Linked DNA regions of Homo sapiens. The gene in region 1 interacts genetically with each later gene. Each region holds a gene or a part of one and is shown on either strand. Other genes may lie near its edges. The genes, in order: FBXO8 and PTAR1.

The links.
Region 2: changes in FBXO8 (region 1) and PTAR1 are lethal when combined (synthetic lethality), as found in Homo sapiens cells (one study listed by BioGRID).

Annotation. Positions count from the first base shown.
Region 1 is NC_000004.12:174,235,966-174,238,813, reverse strand, and holds the end of FBXO8 (F-box only protein 8), read left to right. Parts: intron 1-1,214; coding exon 1,215-1,402; 3' UTR 1,403-2,156; downstream 2,157-2,848. UniProt on the Homo sapiens protein: May promote guanine-nucleotide exchange on an ARF. Promotes the activation of ARF through replacement of GDP with GTP.
Region 2 is NC_000009.12:69,753,074-69,757,011, reverse strand, and holds part of PTAR1 (protein prenyltransferase alpha subunit repeat-containing protein 1), read left to right. Parts: intron 1-3,938.

The DNA.
Region 1 (2,848 bases):
TGTCATAGCTATGGTGTGCGTGTGTGTGTGTGTGTGTGTGTATATATATATATACATGGCTATGTATATATAGCCATTTATATTTTTTATATATTACCTACAAATTTATATATAAATATATATATTACAAATTTATATGTATACAAATGTCTATGTCTATATACACATATAGACATACACATAGACTGTGTCTATGTCTATATACACATATAGACATATAGACATTTGTATATATATAAAGTTGTTATATATGTCTGTTTGTGTGTACTTCTATCTATATGTGTATGTTTGTATGCTTATGATATAGCCTGAATCTTCTACATATTGTTTCAATTCATATAGCTTATCTTTTCATATCAAAAATTTTATTGTGCTTATCTGATTAAACAGAAATTACAAAACTGTTCCTGTCGTGTGAAATTTGTTGAGCATGCTTTACAAGACATAATGTTCAACTTGGCTTTCTTAAGACTGCAGGATTCCGAAATATCAGCACTATAGTAGTAGAACTATTATGACGATTGTTACTATTTTAATATTAAACATCAAATATTACCCTAGGCATATATAAAATCTTGTTGCATGGTGCTCAGGTGTAGCAGTCTTTTCCCTAAAGATTTGCTTTCAAAATTAATATGTAAGTTCCACAGGCCTTTATAACATCTTAAATGAGAATATTAATAATCTTTTGAGTTATTTACATTTTATTTTCTAGTACCAGATTCATGTTTTCTTGTCATTAAAGATGCTCTCAAATTAAAATAGGTTTTTATGAAAGCATTCTATATAAATTTTTTTTTAGAAAGAGGAGATAAATACAAATGTATTTTATGGATGTTTGAATAGAAATATCACATTTGAAAGCAAAGACGAAAATAAAGCCAATTCTAAATTTTTTAAATCTAGAATGAATTTTTACTATACACTCCTAAACTGTTCTAAAGTTCTTTTGAAATGAAGGAAATGCATGCTTAGTTAGTATTAAGATAGGATGATAACCATCCTGGTTTGCTCAGGATTGAGTTTCCCAGGATGACAGGACTTTCAGTGCAAAACTGGGAAGAGTCTAGACAAACTGGGATGGATTGGTCACTCTGTATTTATGAGCTAATCTTGATATCTTGAAATTATGAACATTTTTGCCTTATATAATGCCATTGGAATCATATTTTGTAAACCAACTAATAATTTGAACTGTTTCTTTTTCTTTCCAGATGCTGTCTATGTACTGTGCTACTCTTTGATTCTACTTTCCATTGACCTCACTAGCCCTCATGTGAAGAATAAAATGTCAAAAAGGGAATTTATTCGAAATACCCGTCGCGCTGCTCAAAATATTAGTGAAGATTTTGTAGGGCATCTTTATGACAATATCTACCTTATTGGCCATGTGGCTGCATAAAAAGCACAATTGCTAGGACTTCAGTTTTTACTTCAGACTAAAGCTACCCAAGGACTTAGCAGATATGGGGGTTACATCAGTGCTGGTCATTGTAGCCTGAGTATACAATCAAGCTTCAGTGTGCAACCTTTTTTTCTTTTGCCATTTTCTATTTTAGTAATTTCCTTGGGGAACTAAATAATTTTGCAGAATTTTTCCTAATTTTGTTTATCACGTTTTGCACAAAGCAGAGCCACTGTCTAACACAGCTGTTAACGAATGATAAACTGACATTATACTCTAAAAGATGGTGTATTTGTGCATTAGATTTGCCTGAAAAACTTTATCCATTTCCATTCTTTATACAAATACCATGTAATGTGTACATATTTAACTAAAGAGATTTATAGTCATAATTATTTTATTGTAAAGATTTTAACTAAAGTTTTTCCTTTTCTCTCAAACTGAGTTCTGAAATTTATTTGATTCTGATCTGAAACTATTGTCTTCGTAAAAGTTAGATCTGACTTCAGACAGAAACCAATACCAGCTTCCTTTTCCTTTAAACTTTGAAGAGTGTTGATTTGTTACTATATTACTATGCAAAACTGGCAGTTATTTTTATAATATAAATTTATAATTTGATTTTTTATTTTAAAAACTGGGTTAATCAAGTCTCGGTAAGTCCTTTAAACCATTTAGGATTTTTAAAACATCAAAATTTATGATTTACATTCATAGGAATAAAATAAAATATTATTAGAACTCTGGTAAATGTTTGCTTGCTTATATGTGGTGTGATTATGCAAACTTTACTATTTTTGTAATCTTGATGATCCCCGTTCAGAGTCCATTGAGAAAGACATATTGTGAAGAACAGTAAACACTCTTTACTCATTGGTTCAGTGAATGTCTATCCAGGGCTTTACATGTGTTAACATTGTGCGAGGTACTAGACATGGGCCCTGCTCTCACAGATAATACATAACTGGGTACTGAGAAGAAAAAATCTGCTGAATGGAGAGCAACTATATGAAGTATATCTTAATTAACAATTATTTAATAGTTAAAATATGCAGCATTAGAATGATAGAGAACAGTGTAGTTATATGGTAAGTTAAAAGTGACCTCCAAGTAAAAAGCATAACCTTAGGAATGAAATAGTATGTGATGGGTTGAGCTACTAGTTTAGAGGAGGGAGTTGAGGGAGGTAAAAACTCCTTACTAGAGGTATTGAATCCTGGCTTCCTTCCAGATCTGACCCTTAGTCAAAAGTGGTTGTCAATATTACAACTGGAATGTTGTACTACAGATTTTTCAAGGACAAGACATACGATAATCAAATTTTGAATGTCTAAGGGACTTTTAGACTGATAGTAAATAATTTCTAAGATTCTGAAGCAAATATCCAAATCATTTTTGCATGTGCACAATTTTGAATTCCATGACAATTCTAATTTTTAACTT
Region 2 (3,938 bases), on another chromosome or scaffold:
TGTGCTGTTCCATATGGTAGCCACTAGCCATAGTAGCTATTGAGCAATTGAAGTGTCCCTAATATGAACAGGGACCACATTTTAAATTTTATTTAATTTAAATGGATTTGTACGTAGTGGCTCCATGTGCCTAGTGACTACTGTGATGCATAGTGCAGGTGTAGATGAGACCTAAGACTAACTGCATGAACAGTAAATTAACCCTCCAAAGTAGTTTATAGTAAAAGTTGGATAGGAGCATGATGAGCAAGTGCTATGGGAGTCTAATAGAAGTGGAGAGGAGGCTGGTTATGTCTCGGATAGGGGTGCTAGTGGAGGTGGGTTTTAAGCCAAGTATTAAAGTCTGGGTAGGATTTGTAGTCTCAGAGGGAGCCAGAGACCTCCACAGGGAGCAGTGAATTGACCTAAACAAGCAAAGTGTGGCTGAGAAGGTACAGTAGGGCCAGATTATGGAGATCCTTGACTCTCATTTAATTTCTTTCATTCCATTCATACATTCTGCAAAAGAGTACCTCCATTTGACAGGCACAATGCTGGTCTCTGGGTATACAGGGTTAAAAACTGGGTGGTTTAATGAACAAACCACACATGGTCCCTATCCTAATGGAACTTTAATCAGTCAACATACAGATTATGAAAAGAGTCATAAAAAGTAAGAAGGGTACTTAGAATAAAAACAGGGAGACCCAATTTAGATTATAAGGTCAAGAGGTTCTTTCTGAGGCAATAGCATTTAAACTGAGTGAGACATGAGGGGTGAAGAAAAGCTGGCTCAAGGATGTACACTTCTAAGGCAATGGGTAGGCACCAGTGAACATTTTTTAGTAAAGAATGATGAAAGGCAATTTTAGATCGTCTGCAAGGTGAACTGAAGAATAGAAAGCCAGAGTCTACTGGGCTTCTTATACCTGATTTTTATTTATTTAAATAATAGTGTAGTATAGTTGTAAAAATTTGAGTTTAGAGTTTGATAGTCTAAGCTGTCAAACTGGATTTGAGTCTTTGCTTGTCGTTTATTAACTGAGTAGACTTAGACAAGACTCTTCCTCTGTAAAATGGGGTCAAAATTCCTACTTTATGAGATTATTGTGCAGAATAAAATATATGTAAAACCTAACCGTGCATGGCAAGTAACAATAAACACTAGTAATTTGTGTAGCTTTTTCTAAATAAGGTCAGTAATATAATTTCAGTGAAACATAAGTTGATAATCTTTGGAATTAATGAGAAAGCCTATAAGGTTTCTGAAATATCTAAATCACCAGGAGAATTTTAATTATCAATATGCAACGGTCAGTTCCTTTAGATATATTTTACTAGCTTTCCTTTTTGGTCATGCTGGAAAGAATTCCAGTTCTTTTGGGGGGTGGGAGCAGAACAAAATGAAAATAACTACTATTTAGATTTAAAATGTTTTTACCATTTCCTGAATCCTTGGACTGTTTTCTGTTTGGTTGCTCCACACTATAGGATTCAGTTTGAGTATTTGGGTACCATCCATCCCTCCCAGAAGGTAAGCTGGTTGATGCAACTTTTGTGGATAATAAGTGGCTCTGTTCTGGTTGATGGTGTTTCTGAGAAGTATAGACAGAGAAGCTGTCTAAACATAAGGAACAAAGTCAGTATCAGTGTTACATGAACTGTGAACATCATCTGGAAGCCAATGAATGGATCCCTATTGTGAAGTGAGGCGCTCAAAGAGATGTATCATACTTTGATCTTAAGTAAATGTGCTGGTTCGTTCCACATTGCTCTGCCTTTGGAGCAGTCTGTGATGAAGGTGACCTAAAAAGTGAGCACCATTAGAACTTGATTGCTGTCCCAAACCATCATATCTTTAAAAATCCTATGATCTTCTTAGTTATGCAGGTAATTGAATACCTTGTTAAATACCAGGAATGTAAATGGCCAGAAACCTAACAGTGTAAAAGAGTGAAATTTATTAGTAGTTCCTCTCATAAGACTATTTTGTAAAGAAATAACTAGAGATATGTTTGATATTTATAGCACATTCATTGCAACCATTAAAAATATCAAAATTGATTATGTGGGAAAATGTTTAATGGGAATTGCTCAGTTTTTTTCCATAAAGGATTATAGAATATGTTCAATATGATCCCACTTTTTGAAAATACTCAGGAAAAAAGGATGTATACCCAGCTGGGCACAGTGACTCACACCTGTAATCCTAACACTTTGGGAGGCTCAGTGGGAGGATCACTTGAGGCCAGGAGTTTGAGACCAGCCTGGTCAACATAGTGGGACTACATCTCTACCAAAAAAAAAAAATATATATATATATATTAGCTGGGCATGGTGGTGCATACCTGTAGTCCCAGCTACTCAGGAGATCTGAGGTGAGAGGATTTCTTGAGCCCAGGAGTTGGAGGCTGCAGTGAGTGAGGATTGCACCACTTCACTCCAGCCTGGACGACAGAGCAAGATCCTGTCTCAGGAAAAAAAAAAAAAAAAAAAAAAAGATATATACCCAAACATGTTAATAGCAAAACAGGGATTACAAGTGACTTTTAGGGTTTTTTTTGTTTTGTTTTGTTTTTCCTGAGTTTTCCAGTGTTTCTTTAGTATGGAATTAGAACTTAAATTTCCAGAAAAATAGAAGGAATTGATCTAAATCCTGTTTTGCTCTTTGTTCTAGTGTCAGGGGTTTGGGGCTAAGTATTAGGAGGCCCAGATTCTTAACTTAGCCACTAGCAATATGACCTTAGATAATCCTCATAAACCTCACTGTACCTCAGTTTCCTCATCAGATGAAATGACAGAGGAATGCAGTCCCTTCCAACTTTAAAATGATTTTGGAAGGAATCCTATTCGAAATTGGCTAGAAAAAAGTGGACTGTGACTTAAGGGATGAGACACAGAAGTCTGAAGTCAAACACACTATTATTTGGAAGCTTACTGACCTACCTATGTTTACAAAGTATGTGTAATGTTTTTTAGAAAGCAGCATAACACTGTGTCTTAGGGTCACATAACTTGACAAAGGCTTAAATTCTTTGCCTCGGCTTTCCATTATTAACCAATGAACTCTACTGGTGGATCTTTGTCTAGCACTTCATAGTTTGCCACATTTTCACATGACATTATTTGGTTTCCATAACAGGCAGGGAAGATACTATTCCTGTGTTTCAGATGAGGATACTGATGGCAAGTGACTTGCCGAATTCTCATTGCCTGTCAGTGGATAGAATGGAAACTAACTAGAACTCTGGACTTCCAATCAAGTACTTTTGTCTTTACACCCTACTACCTCTTCATGTGTTTTTCCCCCTAGTGCTCTACATTATCTGTTAAGACTGTTTTTATTCTCCTCACATGAAAATAGCTGCTAGGTTTCTCAGTCATAAAATTTGAAAGCTGGGTGAAATCTATCCCATTTGCCTTACTGGAGGTATAATACAATTCTACCATTTTACAAATGAGGAAACTGAAGTCTACAGAAGCCAAAATGACCTGATACTGATATGTATGTATATGTGTGTGTGTATATATCTATTTCCATCCAGGACTTGGACACATGCTGTTTTCAGTATACTTTATTAGGAGAAAATCAGAGATAATGTTCTTTTAGAGGGACAAGAAGTGAAAACTATTAATTTGAATATTATCACTAAAGTACCAGGATAATCAGCCTTTCAGGAAGCAGCTATTGGGCACCTGCTATATCCAAGCCATTCTTATTTTATAAAGTATTTCTTGAAAGAACAGACAGTCAAAGCAGTGTGTTTTTTAATTGTGCAGATGGCTCTTTTCTGTAGTTTAGATACCAAATTATTAGCTGGGCATTTTAATCCTAGTTTAATTAGTGAGCAAGACAGGTTTTTATATTGTGAATTTAAGTTTAAAAAAAAAATCCCCCCCAAAAACAAACCATACCCAGAAACAGGATTCTTTTATTCTTGTTACTATAACAGTTATAT